2 linked regions of the Homo sapiens genome follow. The main gene of each other region encodes a partner of the protein of the gene in region 2 in a complex. Each region holds a gene or a part of one and is shown on either strand. Other genes may lie near its edges.

Evidence for each region.
Region 1: RGS9BP (region 2) and RGS9 share a complex: the UniProt entries of both Homo sapiens proteins name them as parts of the RGS9-1-Gbeta5 complex.

The regions. Positions count from the first base shown.
Region 1 is NC_000017.11:65,138,027-65,149,550, forward strand, and holds part of RGS9 (regulator of G-protein signaling 9), read left to right. Parts: intron 1-11,524. UniProt on the Homo sapiens protein: Inhibits signal transduction by increasing the GTPase activity of G protein alpha subunits thereby driving them into their inactive GDP-bound form. Binds to GNAT1. Involved in phototransduction; key element in the recovery phase of visual transduction.
Region 2 is NC_000019.10:32,666,590-32,678,800, reverse strand, and holds RGS9BP (regulator of G-protein signaling 9-binding protein), read right to left. Parts: upstream 2,954-12,211; 5' UTR 2,538-2,953; coding exon 1,830-2,537; 3' UTR 501-1,829; downstream 1-500. UniProt on the Homo sapiens protein: Regulator of G protein-coupled receptor (GPCR) signaling in phototransduction. Participates in the recovery phase of visual transduction via its interaction with RGS9-1 isoform.

The sequences.
Region 1 (11,524 bases), on a different chromosome or scaffold from region 2:
GGATAAAGGGCCACCCCATTTACAATGCCCTGAGAGCCCTCATTTGAGTGTGTCTATCTGTGCATCTCCTGCTGTCTGCGCTGGCGGCAGAAGTCCCAACCTTTTCGCTTCCCTTGCGAATGCTTTCCCAGACAAAGTGACCGGGCACAGGGTGTGCACACAGGATGGACATGTGGGAGGTGGAATGCACCTGTGGGGTGATGTGTTTGGGGACAAAGTGGTTCATTTAGTTCTGAGCTTCTGGTATAATCACTGTCCGATGAGATCTACAGAGGATTAGGTCCCGGGTCACATCTTTGTCCTTCCTCCCACCCGTAGCCACTTTTCACAGCGTAGTGTCCATCTTCTTAGGCTTATCTTGTTGAGTAGAATTAGTTGAATGTTTTGTGACAAGCTGAGCTCTCCCTGAGCCCCTGGAGCTCAGCAAATTTGTATAGTCAGTGACCGCTGTCCTGATTTGCCCAGGACTTTCAATGCTAAAACCTGGACAGTCCTGGGGACCCCGAGACGGTCGCATTTGGTCCACCTGTTTCAAGATGCTCGTGCTCATCTTCCGGGTAGCAGAGGTGTGGGTATCATCTGTAAAGCAGACAGGCTGAATGTTGTCTCACTCAGAAAGAACCCTGAGAGCCTGTATTGCAGATACCAGTTACTAAAAGCAGAAGAAACTGCCTAAGTCGGCTATCTCAAAGCCACACATCATCTTCCAGGATTTATCCTAGGACTGTCTCCTCCCAGGCAGGACAGCTCTGGCTTGGGGGCTCAGAGGGTAATTGTCAAGAGATAAATTCAGTTTGTTTATTGAATCTCTGGCATTCTTTTCCATCATGACTCTTCTCTGGTAGATTCTCCTCTCCTTACCTTGGTCTTCTGACTAGTGTCTTGGTCTCTAGTTTCTCTCCTCCACCCCAGGCTTCCCTCCTCCTCCCCAGCCACCCCTCCTCCACCCCAGCATCCCCTCCTCCACCCCAGCATCCCCTCCTCCACCCAAACTCTCCCTCCTCCACCTTAGTCTCCCTTCCTCCACCCTAACCTCTCCCTCCTCCATTCCAGCTCCCCTCCTCCACCCCAGCTCTCCCCCCTCCACCCCACCTTTCCCTCCTCCACCCCAGGTCCTCTTCCTCCACCCTGTCTTCCCCTTCCTCTACCCCATCCTCCTCCTCCTCCCCAGCCTTCTCCTCCTCCATCCTAACTTACCTCTCCTCTACCCTAACCTCCCCCTCCTGCATCCCAGCTCCCCATCTTCCACCCCGGTCTCCCCTCCTCCATGACAGCTTTCCTACACACACTGTTTTTTTCCCCCAAATCAATGGTGACCTCCTTGACCTGAAACGCTCCACTGGCTTCCCACATTCCCAGCATAAAGTCCAACCTTCCCCTGAGCAGCCTGGTTACCCAGGATTCCGCTCCCACCATCTTCCTGGCTTTGCCTCCTGCCTGCCTTCCACACCTGCCCTCTGGGAAACAACAAAGCAGCCACAGGCACCCCTGGGCTCCTGCCTCAAACACTTCCTTCCTTTTTAGGAACCCGGTGCCCTTTCATGCCTCAGGGTCCGTCTGCTGGGAAAGTCCTTTCTCCCCCTCTCGCTTGCCAAGCTCCACTTCTCTTCCCATGCCCAGCTCAGTCACCCCTCGGCTGTGAAGGCTGGTTCTCCTAATGCCCCTGGGCAGGACAGCTCCCTTCTCTGTGCACTACAGACCTTGCCACACCTCCAGCATTGCTCTTTCCCTAGACCTTGTGCTGGCAAGGGCCCTGTCTATGTATCCTCTATATCTATGTATGTATTGGTCATGTCACAGAGCTCCTTGGAGCAGCAGACAGAATAAAGGTCTGCAGAACAGGTCTCAAGAGCCCATGCCAGGCGATCCTTAATGAAGAACCAGCTACATTCGATGTTCAGCTTTCTGGAGAAGGGCCTGGAACAAAAAAATGTGGACCTGGGTGCAACTGTCACTCATCACTCGTTCCATGCATGTGATGAAGTACACGGTGTCCATGATGGTGTGGAGGGGTGGGCATTATGTGCATTATCTCATCTATTTCATTAGCTGGAGGTTATGGCCACCATTTTACAGAGAAGAAAGCTGAGGCTCAGAGAGGCTAAGCGGCTTGCCAGTCACGCAGCACTAGGTGGTGAAACCAAGAAGAAATACAGGAGTGGTCGTTGTCTGTCACAAGTTGTGGTGCAATGCCCTGAGCTTTCCCATGACGTAGGGCAGAGTGTGGAGGCTGTGGGAAAGCCTGGCTCAGTGTGCTTAGGGACACAGAGCTGAGACCTGAAGGATACATAGGGTTTCCAGGCAGAAAGGGAAAGATGTTTCAGGCAGAGGGAACAGTTTACGCACAGAGGCATGGGAAAGCTAGTGGGTTTGGGGCCATGTTCTGTAATGGATGGATTTTGAAGTGCAAGGGGAGTGGGAAGCTGGAAAGGAAAGGCAGAGGTAGTGGGTGCCTATGGGCCTTCAAGACCTTTTAAAGGTTTGGTTTTATCTCATACGGAGCCACTATAGAAATTGGAATGGGCAAGTGATATGGCAGATTTGCAAATTAAGAAGATCACTGGTGGGCCAGTTGCAGTGGCTCATGCCTGTAATCCCAGCAGTTTGGGAGGCCAAGGTAGGTGGATCATCTGAGATCAGGAGTTTGAGACCAGCCTGGCCAACATGGCAAAACCCTCTGACTATTAAAAATATAAAAATTAGCAGGGCGTGGTGGTGAGCACCTGTAATCCCAGCTACTTGGGAGGCTGAGGCAGGAGAATTGCTTGAACCCGGGAGGTGGAGGTTGCAGTAACTGAGTTCACAAGTTCTTGCCACTACACTACACTCTAGCCTGTGTGACAGAGAGAGACTCTGTCTAAAAAAAAAAAAAGGACCACTGGTGTGAGCCAGAGGAATGGGTGGAATGCCTTCTCCCTGAACTAAGAGAGTTCACTCAGGATCCTCCTGTGCCCCTGCAGCTCCAACCTCTTGAGAAATGACAACTGTCATGGGGCCATGGAGAGCCATACTGGTCAGAAAGGACCGTGTGCGATTCCCGAGGTTCTCACACCCATGCCTCCATCTCAGTCTCAATGCAGCTGTGGGTCGGGATGCCCGCCGGCCATGCTGCTTCCCACCTCTGATGCCTGGGCTCGTTTCAGATGTGGTAGAAAGAGGCAGAAGGCCCATCTGTTCATGGCTTTGCTGGGGAATTAGCTGATGGCACACAGTGGACAGATGAACACAGGTGGGTGGCCTCCTGTGGTTCCAGCACCCATGGACTCTTGTTCTGGGGATGGCCCATTCCCCTCTGCAATTACCAGATCACCATCCCAGCCAGTACCACCACCGCCCTTGGGATTCACCATGGGCGAATTTCTTGGACTTTCTTGGAGAAGCCTTCTGGTGACAGCTTTGTTTTCCTGTGCGGCTTCTGGCATCTCTTTTTGCCTGAGAAAGGAATGCAGAAGCAGAAATATTGAGGATATCCAGGCCGAGTTTGGTATCTCTTGCTTGTAACATTCTTTCATTCAATACAGACATATAATTGGGTACTTATGGGCTAGATGCTGTGCCAGGTGCTGGGAGCACCAAGGAGCTTAGAGTCTAGTGGAGAAAGACAGATGTATAAACAAGGAGACAAGAAGTGTTCCATAGGCTGTGGCAGACATTGTTGGAGGATACATGTGACACCAAGCAGGGAGTGGTCAGTTCTACCTGGGGTCAGGGGGGATCAGGACAGATTTTACAAGGGGGCTTGCAATGGAGTCGAATTATAAAAAGTCAGTAGTTTTTGGCCAGGAGGTTGAGGAAATGAGTGACATTTTAGGCAATACAAAACAGGGACATGTGAAGTAGCATGGTGGTTTGGGAGATTGCCTGCGGGTTGGGAGAGCTGGCCCCAAGTGTACAGGAAGTGAGTTTGGCGTTGATGGAGAAGACTGGTAGGTAAGAAAGGCCCAGATCTGCTGGGTGCAGTGGCACATGCCTGTAATCCCAGTACTTTGGGAGGCTGAGGTGGACGGATCACTAGGTCAGGAGTTCAAGACCAGCCTGGCTAACATGGTGAAACCAAAAATACACAAATTAGCCAGGCATGCTGGCATGCGCCTGTAATCCTAGCTACTTGGGAGGCTGAGGCAGGAGAATTGCTTGAACCCAGGAGGCGGAGGCTGCAGTGAGCTGAGATCATGCCACCGCACTCCAGCCTGGGTGACAGAGCAAGACTCAGTCTCAAAAAAAACCCAAAAACCAAAAACCAAAAACAAACAAACAAAAAGAAAAGCCCAGAACTGGAGGGCTTCCTAGGTCATGCTACAGAGTTTGATGGCTTCTGTGTTTAATGAGAAGCTGTTTGACGTTTTAAAATCAGGGATGAATAAGATGAGTTGGTTTATATGCTAGAAAGATGATTCTGGTGAGAGGGAATGAGTAATTCTCAACCTGGGCTGCACTTTAAAAAACATTAATATCAACTCACTCTACTTTGAGTTTCTGATTTACTTGGCCTGGAAGTGAGGCTTAAGCATTGGTCTTTTTATGCCACTGTTTTTCTCCCTTCCTTTCTTTTTTTTTTTTTTTTGTTTGTTTTTGAGACAGAGCCTGTCTCTGTTGCTCAGGCTGGAGTACAGTGGCGAGATCTCGGCTAACGGTAACCTCTGCCTCCCGGGTTCAAGTGATTCTCCTGCCTCAGCCTCCCAAGTAGCTGGGGATACTGGGACCTGCTACCATGCCTGGCTAATTTTTGTGTTTTTAGTAGAGACGGGGTTTCACCATGTTGGTCAGGCTGGTCTCAAACTCCTGACCTCAGGTGCCCCACCTGCCCTGCCTCCTAAAGTGCTGGGATTGCAGGTGTAAACCACAAAGCCTGGCCTGGTTTTCTTTTTGTTTCTTTCTTTCTTTTTTTTTCTTTTTTAACAATTTCTTTTTTTAGAGATGGGTTTTCACTATATTGCCCAGGCTGGACTCAAGCTCCTGGGCTCAAGGGATCCTCTCACCTTGGCTTCCTGAGTAATTTCATTTACAGGTGCCTGCCATCATGCCAGGCTTAACCATTGCTCTTTTTGAAAAGTTTTCCAGGTGGTTTGAATGTGCAGTCAGGATGAGAGCCTCTGGGGACATTTGGCAATGTCTAAATACATTTTAGGTTGTCATAACTGGGGGTGCTCCTGGCATCTAGTGGGTGGAGGACATGAATGCTGCTAAACATCCTACAACACACAGGACAGCCGCCCTCACCAACCCCCAAAGAATGATCCAGCTCCAAGCGTTGATGGGGCCACTGTTGAGAGCCCTGGGCTAAGGAGCACCCCGGAGGCTGGAGACAGATGCCAGCTCAAAGGCAGAACCTGATAGTCCAGGAAGGGGGTTAGAAGATGTTCCACGGAGGCAGGATTGAGTGGGCAGAGAAGAGATGTGTTGAAAACAAAAGCAGTCAGACTGAGCAACATATCAAGACCCATCTCTATAAGAAAATTTAAAAATTAGCTGGGGGCCAGGAGTGGTGGCTCACGCCTTTATCCCAGCACTTTGGGAGGCCAAGGTGGGTGGATCACTTGAGCCCAGGTGTTCGAGACTAGCCTGGGCAACATGGTGAAACCCTGTCTCTACCAAAAATACACACACACACACACAAATGAGCTGGGCATGCTGGCAGGCACCTCTAGCCCCAGCTACTAGGGAGGCTGAGGTGTGAGAATCACTTGAACCCAGGAGGCAGAGGTTGCAGTGAGCCGAGATTGTGCCACTGCACTCCAGCCTGGGCGACAGAGCCAGACTCTGTCTCAAAAAAAAAAAAAAAAAAAATTAGCTGGGCAGGGTGGCACATGCCTGTAGTCTTAGCTATGGGATGCTAAAGTGGGAGGATCACTTATGCCCAGAAGTTTGAGGCCACAGTGAGCTATGATCATGCCACTGTACTCCAGCCTGAAAAAAAAAAAAAAGGAAACAAAAGCAGATTCAACAAAAGTTGGCCACATCTTGGCTGGGGTCACCTGGAACGATTCCCAGGCTTTTGAATCGGTGGGAAGAGCAGATTTTGGAGAAAGACTACCGAGCACTGGTTAGGGCATGGTGCCTCATGAGTGTCTGAGCGTCTGCGAGACATCGGGTGAGACAGCGGGAGGGTGGCTGGACTCTGTGTGGCCAGGCTTATTAGCAGGAGTACATCCTCCTCTGTTAGAAAAACAACTCTGCGGTTCTGGGTCACTTTTCCCATCTTTGTATAGAAAAGTACCGATTATTATTGTTCCCCCGGGTGCCTTCTCCAGCTTAAAGGAAAATTCCAGCCCCAGAGATCTTCCGCAGTGAGTGACAGCTCCTTAATGTGAGGAGCAGCGTGGGCGTGGTGGGTGGGATGTCAGAGCCATCAAAGCCCTCATTTCTGATCCCTCTGTGATGTCGGGGTTCCCTGGCACGCCCACTGTCATGCCTCAGCACATTGGCATCTGAGAGAGGAAAGGTGCAGCTGACACCCTGACCCCCTTCTCCCCGACACGGGGTCAGACAGGGTCCCGCGGTGGCCTGGTTGTGCAGCACTGACATGTTGCCTGGGAACGAAGCGGGGCTGATGCTTTGTCTTGGGAGGAGCTGGGAAGCAGAGTCTGTTTGGGAGTGAGAGTGTTGGCCTTTGAGGGTGAGCATGCCCCCAAGGACACAAGGAGGAGAGTGCAAGGTCTGCTGAAGTTTGCAGCAGAATAGCAAGGGCATCTCACTCCCTGGAGAACTTGGGAAACAGTTCAGATTCTCTCCCCTCTGTGCAGGGGAAGGGATGTTTCTGATTGAATATAGGACACAGAGTCTGTATGAGTTTGTAGGGCTGTCGTCACAAAGATGCATAGACTGAGTGGCTTAAGCAACAGAAACTTCTTTGCTGACAGTTCTGGAGGCTGGAAGTCTGAGATCAAAGTGTGGCACGGTTGGCTTCTCCTGAAGCTTCTCTCCTTGGCTCGCAGATGGCCGTCTTCTCTCTGTTCTCACATCATCTTCCCTCTGTGTCTATCTGTGTCCTAATCTGTTCTCATAAAGACACTGGTCATAGGGGATTAGGGTCCACTCCATGACCTCATTTCACCGCTTTATTTTATTTTTTTATTTTTATTGAGAATGAGTCTCACTCTGTTGCCCAGGCTGGAGTGCAATGGCGAGATCTTGGCTCACTACAACCTCCACCGCCCGGGTTCAAGCGATTCTTCTGCCTCAGCCTCTAGAGTAGCTGGGACTACAGGTGCCCCCCACCACGCCTGGCTAATTTTTTTGTATTTTTAGTAGAGATGGGGTTTCACCTTATTGGCCAGGCTGGTCTCAAACTCCTGACCTCATGATCCACCGGCCTTGGTTTCCCAAAGTGCTGGGATTACAGGCATGAGCCATTGTGCCCAGCCTTATTTTTACTTTTTTGAGACTGAGTCTCACTCTGTTGACCAGGCTGGCGTGCAGTGGCTTGATATCGTCTCAGTGCAACCTCTGCCTCCCGGGTTCAAGCGATTCTCCTGCCTCAGCTCCTGAGTAGCTGGGATTGTAGCCTGCCACCACTCCTGGCTATTTTTTTTTTTTTTAATATATTTTTAATAGAGATGAGGTTTGCCATGTTGGCCAGGCTGGTCTCGAACTCCTGACCTTGAGTGATCTGCCCATCTCAGCCTCCCAAATTGCTGGGATTACAGGTGTGAGCCAGTGCACCTGGACTCATTTCACCTCTTTAAAGACCTTATCTTCAAAAGCAGTCACAGTCTGAGGTACTGGGGTTAGGACTTCAATGTACGAATTTGTAGGGGGACGCAGTTCAGCCCATAGAGCTAGAGTTCTGTGGTTTCCTGGGGAGACTGAGGAGACGCCTCAGAGGAATTTGTACGGGGAAAGGTCTGAGGAAAAAGGATCGGATCCCAATGGGCCGAACTCCCTCAAAATGTTCCCGAGGTCCACGTGACGTTCCCTCCTCCCACCCAGCCCTTCTTTCTGTGAAGGGTGACACACCTCCTAGAAAGAAATCTGACTCCCCTCATTGTGTTTTTAAAATAACTCTCATTATTCCTCCTCTGAAGGTTATTTTCAAACTCTTTATAACTCGATTTTTTTTTAAATGCAAAGACAAGGAATCAAATCTGCCAACTTTCTATCAGAGAAACTCGGGTTTCTAACTTTTAAAGTGGGATTATATGTCTTCTCCAATATATGGGCTCCCTGCTTTTATAACATGCTGCTGTTACATCTAATAAAAACCATTTTGAATGAAGGCAGCCTTTCATCCGGCAGCTAATGTGGGAAAAAGGAGTCTTGGGCCCTCATATTAGAAAATCTTGGCCTGGCGTGGTGGCTCACGCCTGTAATCCCAGCACTTTGGGAGGCCAAGGTGGGCGGATCACGAGGTCAAGAGATCAAGACCATCCTGGCAAACCTGGTGAAACCCCGTCTCTACTAAAAATACAAAAATTAGCTGGGTTTGGTGGGGTGCGCCTGTAGTCCCAGCTACTTGGGAGGCTGAGGCAGGAGAATCGCTTGAACCTGGGAGGCGGAGGTTGCAATGAGCCAAGATCCGCCACTGCACTCCAGCTTGGCGACAGAGCAAGACTGTCTCAAAAAAAAAAAAAAAGAAAAGAAAATCTTGGCCGGGCACGGTGGCTCATGCCTGTAATCCCAGCACTTTGGGAGGCTGAGGCAGGCAGATCACTTGAGGTCAGGAGTTTGAGACCAGCCTGGACAACATGGTGAAACCTCATCTCTACTAAAATACAAAAAATTAGCGTAGTGGCGCGCGCCTGTAGTCCCAGCTTCTCAGGAGGCTGAGGCACAAGAACCGCTTGAGCCCAGGAGGTGGAGGTTACAGTGAGCCAAGATCATGCCACTACAGCTTGGGCTACAGAGTAAGACTCCGTCTCAAAAACAAACAAACAAACAAAAAAAGAAAATCAGGCACTTCTTGGGTACCATGGAGACCTGAGGTCACAGTTAGTGGAGAACTCCAGAAGGAGTCACTCCTGCAGCCTGTTGCCTCCTCAGTTCCCTGGGCCACCCCCAGGAGCAGCAGCTGTACCTCCCAGTGCCCCGCAAACACCCTCCTGGCGTTGTCCCTTTGCTTCCCTCATTGCTGCTGGACCTACAGCTGACCCAGTGACCTCAGATGCTGCCAAGTCCTGACACTGCAGATGGCCAAGGACTATGGCTCTGAGTCAAGCCAAAATAAGTATTTTCTGTTCCAAAACAATTCTGTGAGCCGAGAATGTGTCCGTGCAGAGGAAGCTGACAGTCAGTCTTGCACCAGGAGTCCCTGGAGCTGCCTGGGTCTGCACGCTGGCTGGCTGTGTGCTCAGAGTGGCCTCAGCTGTGTACCTGCCCTTGGCCCATTTCTTGAAATCGTGGTTCAGCTGCAAATGCTGGTTTAGCAATAAAGATTGAAATAGGGAATCTCACCCCTCAGCATCAAGTTAGGTCATGGTCCCACGCTCCTTGGGAAGGTGGGAGCTTCCCAGCTTCAGGCTGCCTGAGTGACAGGTGGCAGGTAGCATTTTTCCACTTCAGGACTCCCTTGAATGACCCGTCACCTTGAATGCACCTGGATCATTCTCTCTCTCTTTTAAAAACTTTTTTTTTTTTTTTTTTTTTGAGACAGAGTCTCACTCTGTTACCCAGGCTGGAGTGCGGTGGCATGATCTCAGCTCACTGCAACCTCCACCTCCTGGGTTCAAGTGATTCTCCTGCCTCAGCCTCCTGAGTAGCTGGGATTACAAGCATGCGCCATCACACCCAGCTAATTTTTGTATTTTTTGTAGAGACGGGGTTTTACCATGTTGGCCGGGCTGGTGTCGAACTCCTGCCATCAAATGATCTGTCTGCCTTACCCTCCCAAAGTGCAGGGATTACAGGCATGAGCCACTGTGCCCGGCCTCTCTTTAAAAAATTTTTATTTTATTGTGGTGAGAACATCTCACACGAGATCTACCCTTTCAAAACTTTAAGTGCACAATACAATATTGTTGATGAGGTACAATGTTGTACAGCAGATGTCTAGAATGTATTCATCTCATTTAACTGAAAGTTCTTTATGTCTGTTGAGTAGCAACTCCCCAGTTTCCCTTCTCTCTAACCCCTGGCAACCACCATTCTGATATTTGATCTATGAATCTGTCTATTCTAGGTACTTCATGTAAGTGGAATCGTGTGGTATTTGTCCTTCTGTGACCGGCCTATTTCACTTAGCATAATTAGCCCTAGGTTCATCCATTTGCTTGCATATTGCAGAATTTCCTTCTTTTCGAAAGCCAAACAATGTTCTTTTGTATGCATAGAACACATTTTCTTTGTTCATCTGACAGTGGACACTTAGGTTATTTCCACATTTTGGCTAACGTGTATAGTGCTGCAGTGAACATGGGAGTGCAGGTATCTTTTCCAGAGCCTGATTTCAATTCTTTTGGGTACATACCCAGAAGTGGTATTGTTGGATGCTGTGGTAGTTCTATTTTTAATTTTTCTGATGAACCTCCATACTGTTTTCCACAGCAGATGCACCATTTTATATTTCTACCAACAGTGCACAGGGTTCCAATTTCAATCTCTTTCCATTTCTGAATTAAGAAACCTGAGTCCTTCTTATACCACCCCTCCCTTGGAGTGCGGCCTGGTCCTCACCATCTAGGGAGATTCTGTTGGCCCTCTCTGCACTTTTTTTGGGATCATCTCAGCCAGTCTGCAGTTGCTATTTTTTTTGTGGGTAGGTGTGGGGAGGAGGACAAGGGCTCCCTGTGTTGCCCAGGCTGGTTTCAAACTCCTGGGCTCGAGTGATCTTCCTGCCTCAGCCTTCCAGGTAGCTGGGATTACAGGCATGAGCTACCATGTCTGACTTGCAATTGCTATTTCATAAATACTTTGTGCACAGAATGATATGAAATGCTTTGTATGCTTAATCTCATTTAGTCTTTGCAATATCCCTACGATGATTGGTTTTGGTGTTTTTTTTGTTTTGTTTTGTTTTTTGAGGCAAGGTCTCTCTCTGTTGCACAGACTGGAGTGCAGTGACGTGATCTCGGCTCATTGCAACCTCTGCCTCCCAGGTTCAAGCGATTTTCCTGCCTCAGCCTCCTGAGTAGCTGGGATTGTAGGCGCCCGCCACCATGCCCGGCTAGTTTTTTTTTTGTTGTTGTTATGTTTAATAGAAACGAGGTTTTGCCATGTTGGCCAGGCTGGTCTCGAACTCCTGACCTCAAGTGATCCACCCGCCTTGGCCTCCTAAAATGCTGAGATTACAGGCATGAGCCATCGCACCGGGCCTGATGCTATTGCAAGTTCTATTTTACAGATAAATGAGTCCTAGTGAAATTTAGCAATTTACCAAAAGCCTCTAGCTTCTAAATTGGAGCAGAGATGTGAAACTGAACTTTCTCTGCATTCAGACTCCTAGCTTTCATATTAGTTAACTTTTCATTTTCATGTAACTGTCTGCTCAACTTTCTGAAGACTGGGTGTATGTCTTTTACCTTGTATCCTTGCAGTGCAGGGTTCTTAATACATGCTCAATAAATACCTATACTTATTTGGTTTGTTGACC
Region 2 (12,211 bases):
TGCAGTGAAATTATAGAAAAAAATAAAGAATATTGATTTTAGACTGAGCATAGTAGCTTATGCCTGTAGTCCCAGTACTTTGGGAGGCCTAGGTGGGAGGACCACTTGAGGCCAGGAGTTTGAGACCAGCCTGGGCAACATAGCCCAACTCTGTCTCTACAAAAAATTAGTTGAGTGCCGTGATGCACACCTTTAGTCCCAGCTACTTGGGAGGGTGAGGTGGGAGGAGAGCTTGAGCCCAGGAGTTCAAGGCTGTGGTTTGCTGATTGCGCCCCTGCACTCCAGCCTGGGCGACACCACAAGATCCTATCTCTAAAGAAAAATAAAAATAAATAAATAAATTAACTGCCTTAAAAACATTAGCCAGGTGCGGTGGCACACACCTGTAGTTCCAGCTACTCAGGAGGCTGAAGTAGGAGGATAGTTTGAGCCCGAGATTTGGAGGCTGCAGTGAGCCACAATCACACCATTGCACTCCAGCCTGGGTGACAGAGGGAGACCCTGTCTCAAAAAAGAAAAAAGTGGGGGGGGGGGAAGACTATCAACTTCAGAAGTAGATGAAATATATATTTAGTAATCTAAGTATCTACATAAAGATACTATGTTTGACTCATTGGCAGGTATGAGTTCATGGCCCAGCGTTCTTTATTAAAATAACAGCTTTCATAGTACACGCTGTGGTTACGTCATTTTTCTTTCAGAGTATTATTACCTTTTAAAAGCTTCTTAAATCCCAAGTTAAAGCTGTTACATTCTAACCCAGTCTCAGAGCTGATTGGCTCAAAACCTCTGTGGGCCAGTAATGCCACATTACCCCGGAGGGGCGGGCAGCGCGGGGGTCAGGGAGCTGCCAAAGCCAGCCCTCCTACTGGCCAGCACGCACATTCCAGGGGATAAATAGGATTAAGTGCTCTAAAGAGGATTCCCAGCCCTCCTGCAAAGGAGGTTCAAACACTCTGGTCTAGTTCTGAACAAAAATAAGCCCCAGAGAAGGAGAAAGTGCCTGTTTAAACACCAGGTGGCCCTACCCCAAGCCTCTGCTCTTCCTCTTACCCCCATCTCCGGGTGGCTGGGGAGAGCCCTTTTCCGCAGGCAAGTGTGCGCACTGGATCCAAGTCCGTGAGAGTAGGTTCAACCCACCCTCTTTGGTTTCCTAAATAGGGTCAGCCCCTGAGCGGCAGTGGGAGGTCATGACCTCAAATCTCTTCTAGCTGCTCTTGGGGACGAATGGATAAACTCTGCTAGGAAGGGCTGTAGCGCGTCTTAGAGAAAGCCCTTTGTATGAACTGCTCTCGGGACACTCTCCTAAATTTAGGCCCTGAAAGATTAAGGTAATAAAAGCTGCTGACATTTGATTGCAATTTTTCTTGTCCGGGAAACAGACCAACCACATAGAACCAAACAGCGTCCCTCTCCAAACTTCACTCCACCCCACCCACCTTTTCAAACTGTCCCACGCAGAAAGGGGGCGACGCTGGCAGGGGTGGGCACCGAACTCGGACTCCCTGTAAAGACGCCCCAACAGCACATGTGTTAACTCATTAACTCGGAGGGATCTAGGGTCACTGTGACGGTTTTCTATTAATAGGGAATAAAGCTCCTGCAGACGTTAGCGGTAATGCCCTGACGGCCGGCGCAAAGTTAACTCCTCCCGGGCCAGCAAGAGGAAACCGTGTCCTGCCCAGGCAGATGTGCACTGGAAACGCGCGTGTACCCATGCACACACGGGGTTTTAGGACCACTCCCCTTGCACAGGCCAGACCCCACACCCATCCCGAGTCTTTTCTCAGGGGAGGGAGCGGCAGCAGCAGGCGGCCGTCGGGTGTCCGTCAGCTCAGCTTCGCCACGCACACGGCTAGGGCCACAGCCGCCAGCAGCACGGCGCCGAAAAGGATGGCGGCCAGGGCCTTCCTGGGGTCGCAACCCCCCCCGCGCTCCTGCAAGGACACGACCGAGGAGGGGCCGGCGCTGACCGTGGACAGGAGCTCGGCGCCCGCCGCCTGCCGGGCTTGCACGGTCCAGCGGGGCACGTTGACCTTCATCTCCATGTTGTCGATCATCTCGCCCACCTGAAGGACCTCGCGCTCCAGCTCCCGCAGGTCCGCGACGTCGAAGTCGCCCTCCGCCTCGAGCCGCAGGCTGCGGGTGCTCAGCGCGCGCGCCGCCACGCCGGAGGAGGCGCCAGCCACACCTGTGCGCACCAGCGGCCGCCGCGGCGCGTGCAGCGGGAACGCGGCGCCCAGCTCCAGCGCGCGTCGCATGTCCGCTTCCAGCAGGTCCAGGCAGCCCGAGAAGGCCACCCAGAGCCGCTCGAACTCGGCGCGCTCGTCGGCGGCCAGGCCCCGGTCGCGCAGCACAGCAGTCAGCCGGGCGCAGGTGGACACCGCCAGCTCCTGCGCCTTCTGGCGCGTCTTTTGCAGCTCCTGCCGCAGGTTCTGCGAGTCCGCCGAGCCACCGACGGTCAGCACCAGGTGGTGGTAGCACGCAGTCGTCTTGTTGAGCCCGTCCAGCAGCGCCTTGCACTCCTCCCTCGCCATCGCGGTGGGCTCCGGCTGGGCCCGGCCGCCCGCGCCCGTTAGCCTCCCCCTCAGCGCGGCAGGATGTGGCTAACCCCCATCCCGGCCTTGGGCCGCGCGGCACGAACGCTCTTCATGGTCCGTGACTCGCTCGGCGCTACCGCCAACGTCCACGGAGCCCGCCCGGGACCCTCGACGTGCGCCTCTGCGGACGGGGCGCGCAGAGGGAGCCCCGTTAGCGGTCCCCCGCTCCCTCGTCCATCCTCCCCAGGCGCACTCCGAGTCACACGTCGTGTCTCTGCACCGCCCTGGCCTCCACGGTGGCTCCCTGCGAAGCTGAGGGTGCGGTCCCCATCCTCCGTGGGTGCCAACTCCGGGGCAAGCAGGCTGCAGAGCCGCGCGCTCCGCCTTAGGCGCTGCCAAGGGCGGCCGGGTAGGGTTTCCTAGGACCCGCCCACCCCGCTCGTCCCGGCCGGAGCTGCCACCCCCTGGATCAGTGGTAGGCGGGGCTCCACGCGGGGAGGTCACGTGTGGGTGGCCCATCCCTCCCTCCCCTTCGCCCCATCCGAGTTCTGGAATGTTAGCGCTCGGGAGATCCAACCCGTTCTATTTTACGGATGGGGAAACTGAGGCCCAGGTAAAAAGCGGGCCAGGCTCCCGCGGAGTTTTTGCCTGTGATGGGACTAGAACCCAGCTATACTGACTCCCGGACCCTGTCGGCGACAGGACGTCGGGTGCCCCGCAGGACTGGGCACCTCCGTGCCCCAAAGCGAGCAGTGACTGGCAATCCGAGGGGCTGGGCGCCGCCGGGGTCAGGTGTCCCTGCCGCGTTGCGCTCACGTTGGTCGGTGCTTCCAAGCGCTAACCCCACCTCTAGTGTCAGCCCGGCTCCCAGCCCCGCCCCTCACGTTCTGGGCACGCGCAGTTGCGGGCGTGGGGCGGGGCCAGCTGGAGTAGGAAGCGTAGGGAGCCGCCTGAGCCCCGCCCCCGGCTGGGCTGGACTCCATGATTGCTCTGCGTACACGTCACTCTGGGAAACGACGGTTTCTCATTGGGTCAGCTGTGGCGCGGCTCCGCCCCACGGCGGAGTAAGGGGTGGGCTATAGGGCCAGATCGCCGCGCGAGGGTGGTGGGCATCGAGGTCCCAGCAGCGGACGAGGGAGGTGCCGCCGTCGCCCAGGATGGGCTGGGAATGAAGCGATGTAGCCTTTTAAGTAAGTGTCCTCGCGCTGGCCTCCTCCTGCGCCTCCCCTCCCGCGGGATGGCTGCGCCTCGGGGCGCGGCGGCCGGGCGGGGCCCGGAGAGTGAGGGGGGAGGGGCTCCCTGCTCTCCGGAGTCCGCTCCCGGGTCCGCCAGGTGGCCCCGCGCCGCCCCAGCCCCCGCGTCCCCAGGTGGGTGCCCGGTGCGCAGCCGGCGCGCCCTGCCCACTCCGCCCCTCGGGTCTGGAGGAGGGGAGCGGTCGGCGCGGAGAATGCACCCTCCGAGCCTCGCTGCGTCGACACCGGCGGGTGTGGCCGGGGTGCCGGGTCCGGCGGTTCGGATCTGGCGGGGCGCGGGGCGGTCGCCGCGCGGTTTCCCGGAGGCCTAGGGTCTGCTGGAGGGGAGCGGCGGGTGGGGGTCCGAGCCGCGCGCGCAGCGGTTGTGGTTTCCGGGGGGTGATGAGGGCGCGGAGCGGGGAATCCCTGGCTGCCGGCCTCTCGCAGGGCGGGGGGGTCTCTGCATTCCCACAGGTAAAGATTGTTAAAGGAAAACTCTTAAGCACCGAGAGATGTTCCGGATTCTGAGTCTGTTCCGTCTTGTGGTTGAAAATGGACTGCCCAGGAGCACACGAGCCACGCGGTGCCCCCTTGGCTGCCCCACGAGGTGCAGGGGACGTGGGCACTCGCGGCCTGTGCTGGGCGAGGGAGCAAGGGACGGGTCTTCGCTGAGGATTTAGAGCATGCAGGGAACGAGGGCTGCTGGCAGTGCTGGAGGGACTGTGAGGCTGCAGAGAGCTCAGATTTTACAAGTTGATGGGTTTCATGGATAGAGGCCCCTATTTTGATTAAAAAATGCACTCTTCCCACTGGCCGAAGAGTAGAGCAGTGGATATTTTTTTTCTTTTCTTTCTTTTCGTTTTTTTCTTTTTGAGACAGGGTCTGGCTCTGTTGGCTAGTCTGGAGTGCAGTGATGCCATCATAGCTCATTGCAGCCTCAAACTCCTGGACTCAAGCAATCCTTTCACCTCAGCCTCTGTAGTAGCTGGGACTACAGGCGCATGCCACTATGCACGGCTAATTTTTAATTTTTTTTTTTTTTTTTTGTAGAGATGGAGTCTAGCAGGTTGCCTAGGCTGGTCTTGAACTCCTGGACTCAAGCCATGCTCTCGTCTTGGCCTCCCAAGGTGTTGGGATTACAGGCACTAGCCACCACGTTTTGCTGAGCAGTAGCTGTTACGTTTCGAGATCAGCCTGGCATGAGGACTGGTGTTGAGGTGGCCTAAGGGTCCGGTGTACTGAGCCCCGGGGCCTGCTGTCACCCAGGGGTCCGTCCTTTAACTGGGTGAGCAGTAGGCTGGGTGTTTGCTGCCAGGGCTTGGGTACTCCTGGCCTTGACCATTGTGTGGAAGGGGGGTTCTCAGCCACCCACACGCTACATAGGGTCGTTCCCAGGGGGATAGTAGTTTTCAGGACAAAATGGGTGGAAAGAGGGAAAATACTCTTTCCCTTCGGGGGAAGCTTTGGAGACAGCAGAGGGTGAGGAAGCTGCAAAGGTGGCCAGAGGCCAGATGTGCCAGGTCCTGAGCACCTAGCAGAGAAGTTGAGGGCTCACCTGGTGGGGAGTGCAGGGGAATCCTTTGAGGAATCCTGCAGAGCTCGGCGCTGGAAAGATCGCTTTGTTGTGTTGCTGGTGGACAGGCGTGAGTGAAATCCAGGGGGCAGATCCAGGAGGCACAGCCCGTAGGCCTTGGAAGGAGGGGATGCAGGATGGGAGCAGGAGCAGAGACTTCTTCTGACCAGCCATAGGGACAGGAATGCACCTGGGGATCTGACATTGGATAGACTTACATTCCCAAGTTACACCCAGTCTTGCCTGGTGACCTGAAATAATCTTGGCCGGCAGCTTCCCTGGGAGGGCAGGCAGAGGTGTCTGCAGAGGGCCGGGGGTTAGGGTCTCCGTTGTGCCTCTTTGTGACTGTTAGACTGTGTCTCCCTCACCAAGACAGCTGCTGGGTCTTTGTTAGTGATGTTTCTGTGTCCCAGTTAAGGTTTCTGTGGCATCTGCCCTGCTGGGGCTCTTCCTGTCTGTCATTTGCCAGCATTAGGTTGGTGTCCAATGACTCCATCCTCTCATAGAGGAGTGGAGGAATGTGACCATGTCATGATAGGTACCAATCCTAGAAAGGATTCAGCCCAGAAGGATCCAGACTTGATTTGTCCTGAGGTTGATTCTCCATCTGAGGAACACTGAGAAGCGGCCCTAGAGCTCCTGCCCATCTGCCCAAGATACTGGTGGAGGGTGCATGGTGGTTCTTCTCCCTGTGGTCCGGGAACAGGGTGATGCGGTGGCATTCGGAGGGGCTGTTGTGCTCCTCCAAACTTTCCCGCTCCCTGCATGGTCCCGCCCTGGTTCCAGTCCTGGCTTCTCTCTAGCCCTGCCCATTCCAGCTATCACTGTGTTGGGCTGGCACTGAGCATCCTGATTGTTTTGGGCTTTTTGCCTTTGTGCTTGCTTGGCTATGACCTGGGGTTAGCCCCTCACCTACCCTGGATATGGACAGTGGAGTTCCAGCTCTTGTGAGAGATGACCTCTCCCTGGGAGCTGGGGCTTCCTCTTAATGCCCCACTATCGTTTTGTTCAAGTGGGTGAGCAGTTACTCCATCTCTGCAGGGAACCAGGCGCAGGGCTGGGTGCTTTAATGAGAAGCTTTGAGAAGAATATGGACAGGATCTCTAAATGTTATAGGTCAGGAGGACACAAGTGACTGTAACAGCATACATACATCACCACATTGCTTCCATTGGTGTGAAAAATAGATGAATAGAAAGTTTTCGTTTTTCGCCTTTTCCTTCTGAATCATAAATTAGACCAAATGGAGAATACTGCTTATCTGTTGGGAAGCGTTCCTGGTCAGAGTGTTTGGTCAGAGCCCCGGAAGGGCGGGAACGGCCATCGCAGTGAGATTTCAGCAGGGAGTGCATCTCTAAGGAGGCTGAATTCCCCCATGCTGAATTCTGCTGAGCTGGGCTGCACGCTGTCACCAGACGGTTCTTGACCACCCAGACTTATCTGGGCTAGCAGGACGGTTGAAGACCACAAAACCACGAGTGTGCACGCTGCTCCCTGAAATACTAGTTTGAGGCCTCACATGGCTCTCCTGTTCATAGAATAACTGCAGATAACTCACATTTAGAGGTATTTGGTATCTCCAGCTAACTCAACTGGATTTTCTGTACATTTTCCCATCATTTGAGCCCAGGCAGGGATGGAATTTTTTAAAAGAAGTTTTATAAGAAGATTCACTTATCTTTCCAGTTTTACAAGAAAAAGTCCATTTTCTTTGCATGTTATTTTAAAATAGCAAACTAATTCTTTTGTTTGTTTTGTTTTTGAGATAGGTCTCACTCTGTTGCCCAGGCTGGAGTGCAGTGGCCCGATCTCGGCTCACTGCAACCTCCACCTCCCAGGTTCAAGAGATTCTCGTGCCTCAGCCTCCCAAGTAGCTGGGATTATAGGTGTGGGCCACCACAACCAGCTAATTGTATTTTTAGTAGAGACGGGGTTTTACCATGTTGGCCAGGCTGGTCTGAAACTCCTGACCTCCAGTGATCCACCCGCTTTGGCCTCCCAAAATGCTGGGATTACAGGTGTGAGCCACTGTGCCCAGCCAGCAAACTAATTCTTGCAGGTAAACTTGACAGGGTATAAAACTGTTTTTTTAAGCATTTACCCTTATGTAAGAATTCAACTCTGGCATTAAGCACCAGATCATATGAGATTATTACTTTTTTTTTTTGGAGACAGGGTCTTCCTCTGTCGCCTAGGCTAGAGTGCAGTGGTGCAGTCATAACTCATTGCAGCCTTGACCTCTTGGGCTCAAGTGATCCTCTGGCCTCAGCCTCCCCTGGCTGGGTGTGTGCCACCATACCCATAGATAATTTTTTGATTTTCCTGTAGAGACAGGGTCTCACTTTGTTGCTCAGGCTGGTCTTGAACTCCTGGGCTCAATCATCTGTCAGCCTCAGCCTCCCAAAGTGCTGAGATTACAGGTGTGAGCCACTGCACCTGGCATATTACAGATTTTTTTTTGTCATTTTTTGAAATGGAGTCTCACTCCGTTACACAGACTGGAGTGCAATGGTGTGATCTTGGCTCACTGCAACCTCCACTTCCCAGGTTCAAGTGATTCTTCTGCCTCAGCCTCCCTAGTGGCTGGGATTATAGGTGCCCATGCCTGGCTAATTTTTGTATTTTTAGTAGAGACAGGGTTTCACCATGTTGGCCAGGCTGGTCTTGAACTCCATCTCAAGTGATCAGCCCGCCTCGGCCTTCCAAAGTGCTGGGATTACAGGTGCTAGCCACTGTGCCTGGCCCTTTTTTAAATTTTAATTTACATTTTTTATTTTTTATTGAGACAGAGTCCCCCTCTGTTGCCCAGGCTGGAGTGCAGTGTCATGATCTTGGCTCACTGCAACCTCCGCCTCCTGGGTTGAAGTGATTCTTATGCTTCAGCTTCCTGAGTACCTGGGATTACAGGGGTTTGCCACCATGCCCGGCTAATTTTTGTATTTTTAGTAGAGACAGGGTTTTGCCATGTTGGCCAGGCTGGTCTCAAACTCCTGACCTCAGGTGATCCGCCCGCCTCGGCCTCCCAAGCCACTGCACCCTGCATGTTACGTATTTTTAACACTAGGACAGAAAGGTTGAGAACAGTGTCGGACAGAGGTCCTTTTTCTTCTTTTTTTTTCATGTGACAGCACGGATGAAAGGACAGAGCTCTTTGAATCCCTACTCCTGGACAGAGGATTCAGTCTTTAGTGACCAAGAAGACTGAGGTCCAAGATAAAGCAGATGACTTGGGGCTGGATAACAGCAGGCCCTGTCCGCACAGCAGTGCTTGTTAAGGGCGTGGTGTGTTTACACAGTTCTTGCATGTGACCTGCATGTTTTGATGTGGCACTCAGTGACCTTCCTGTCTCTTGCTGTTCTGCCCCTTTCTGGCCTCTGCTTGGAGTCTTACTACTTTCCCATCCTCTAGTTCATCCCCTTCCCTGCCGTTTTTTTCATTTTCTTTCTTTTTTTTTTTTTTGTGACGGGATCTCAGCCTGTCACTCAGGCTGGAGTGCAGTGGCGCCATCTCGGCTCGCTGCAACCTCCACTTCTTAGGTTCAAGCAATTCTTCTGCCTCAGCCTCCAAGTAGCTGGGACTACAGGTGCCCATCACCACGCCCAGCTAATTTTTGTATTTTTAGCAGAGACGGGGTTTCACCATTTTGGCCAGGGTGGTCTTGAACTCCTGACTTCAGGTGATCCACTGCCTTGGCCTCCCAAAGTGTTCAGATTATAGGTGTGAGCCACCACGCCCGACCACTGCTGTTTTCTTCTGTCTCTGGTCCTTACCTCCCAGCTCTGTTTTTAGTTCGTCCATGGAAGCCTGTCCTTGTTGCCTCATCTTGCGGGGTGGAAGTATTGGTGTTCCTCCAGCATCTTTTCTGAAGCAGAAGGAGCGCCTTTTCCCAGCTTGAGTCTGACCATATTGCATCCTGTTTCTCACATGGCTTTCATCCAGAGCATCTTTACTTTTGCAATGTGCCACATAGAACCAACTATGTCAGGAACTAGAAAGAGTTTTGTGTTCTTGTGACTCTGTCCCAGCAAAATTGCATTATCTCATTGTGGTGGAGACTCATAAAAGGATTATCTGGGCTCCAGTAATAAGTGAATTTAATGATTCAAATAGCTGAGTTATTGCAGAGGCACCCCTGGGGCCCAGGCAGGGATTATATGCGACCATTTTTATGTTAGTCTCTTCTCCCTAGGAGGACTGGCGGAGAGCTCACAGGCCTTTTTCAAGCAGAACCCAGGGCACCTGCAGCCAAGACAGTTCTGGCTGGACCTGGGGAATTAGTTGAGGGGCCTGTGTGGCTGTCTGTCTTGTGGACTTTTCTTCTGTTGAAATAAAATATGACTCTTAGGCTGGGCATGGTTGCTCACGCTGTAATCCCAGCGCTGTGAGAGGCTGAGGCGGGAGGATTACTTGAGGCCAGGAGTATGAGACCAGCCTGGGCCACATAGCGAGACACCATCTCTACTAAATGAATGAATGAATGAATGGCTCTTATTTATCCTTGAGTCAGCCAGCTGCATCTCAGTTTCTTCATCTGTGACACAGGCTAGTGATACCTACTTGCCTAGAGTTATTGTGAGCATTAAGATAGGATGAGTGCTGGGTGCAGTGGCTCACACTTATAATCCCAGCACTTAGGGGGAGCTGAGGCAGGAGGATCACTTGGGCAATGTAGCGAGACCCCATCTGTACTGAAAATTAAAAAATTAGCTGGGCACGGTGGCTCACGCCTGTAATCTCAGCACCCTGGAGTCCGAGACAGGAGGATTGCTTAAGTAACTTAGTGAGACCCCATCTCTACAAAGAATAAAAAAAAAATTAGCTAGGCATGGTGGCTCATGCCTGTAGTCCCAACTACTTGGGAGGCTGAGGCAGGAGGATCACCTCAGCCCAGGAGGTCAAGGCTGTAGTGAGCTGTGATTGTACCAGTGTACTCCAGTGTGAGTGATAGAGCAAGACCCGTCTCAAAAAAAAAAAAAAAAGATGAAGATAAGACTGGGCACAGTGGCTTATGCCTTGTAACCCCAGCACATTGGGAGGCCAGGGCAGGAGGCTCACTTGAGGTCAGGAGTTTGAGACCAGCCTGGGCAACATAGTGAGACACTGTTTCTACCAAAAACAAAACAAAACAAAAAATTTAGGCTTGGCCAGGTGGCTCATACCCGTAATTGTGGCACTTTAGGAGGCTAAGGTGGGAGGATTGCTTGAGGCCAGGAGTTTGAGGGTGCAGTGAGCTATGATTGTGTCACTGTACTCCAGCCTGGTCAGTAGAGTGAGACCCCAACTCATAAATAAATGAAGGTAAGTAAGTAAAGATGAGGATGTATAGAAGTTATTGCAGTGCCTGGTACAAGGACTCTCCCAAATGGTGGCTATTTTTACCATTAGTTCCAAGGAATAGAATTCATCATGCAGTTATGTATGCATAGTGTTTTCCCAAGGAAGCATTCTGGATCCCTGTTACATAGTGAGAGAGTAGCTCCTATTTCATATTTCATTCATTTAATTGTATCAAGGATAAATTCACTTTTACGCTTTTTAAATAGTTGCTGATTTTCTCATTTTAATGAAGAGAGAAGGCCCCAGGCTCAAGCTTAGCATCTAATGACTTTTTTTTTTTTTTTTGAGACGGAGTTTCACTCTTGTCGCCCAGGCTGGAGTGCAATGGCATGATCTCGGCTTACTGCAACCTCCATCTCCTGGATTCAAGCGATTCTCCTGCTTCAGCCTCCTGAGTAGCTGAGATTACAAGTGTGTGCCACCACGCCCGGCTAATTTTTGTATTTTTAATAGAGATGGGGTTTCACCACGTTGGCCAGGCTGGATCCGCCCACCTCGGCCTCCGAAAGTGCTGGGATTATGAGGTTTTAAATAACAGTAATTACCTTTATAATTTTTAACTTTAAGATGATCTTCTCTTCGTTGGAAGTGATACCATTTTTCTATTTAAAGTAGTAATAAGATTTCTTTTTAAAATAAATTTTAGGCCAAGGATGGTGGCATATGCCTGTTGAGCCAGGAGTTCAAGACCACCCTGGGCAACACAGCGAGACTCCATTTCTACAAAAGTAAACAAAAATAAAACAGAAAGGAAAATACATTTTTATAAAGACAATAAGTTATTGAAGGAAAATGTCAAACACTAGCAAGAGAGCCATTATGTGTAATTGTTGGGCAAAATTGTGCTCACATTGTGGGCAGGTTGTTCACTGCCCAGCAGCAGGGGCCGTGCAGCATGTTACCTAGGAGCTGCTCACTAGCCTAGTGCCCTTGCACAGAGCTGCGCCCCCTGGGAAGTCGGGTGCCTGTTTCTAATTCTCACAAAGGTCCCATGTGAGCTTGCAGTAACTGGTGCTATGTTGATATGCAGTACTGCATGTCACAGATAGTGAAGGTGGCATGGAAATGACCCTCATAAGAGTCCTGCAGACAGGTATTAGCATTCTCTGTGGTGCAGGCCCAGATGGAGGCTCAGAGAGGTGGGATGACGTGGTTAGAAATCTGATCTCCTGGCTGGGCATGGTGGCTCACGCCTGTAATCCCAGCACTTTGGGAGGCCGAGGTGGGCGGATCACTTGAGGTCAGGAGTTTGAGACCAGCGTGGCCATCATGATGAAACCCCGTCTCTACTAAAAATAAAAAAATTAGCCGGGAGTGGTAGTGCACACCTGTAATCCCAGCTACGAGGGAGGCTGAGGCAGCAGGAGAATTACTTGATCACAGGGGTGGAGGTTGCAGTGAGCCGAGATTGCACCACTGCACTCCAGCCTGGGCAACAGAGTGAGACTCTGTCTCAAAAAAAAAAAAAAAAAAAAATAGAAATCTGATTTCCTTTTCTGTGCCCATTTTGTAGGCACCCCCTCTGAGA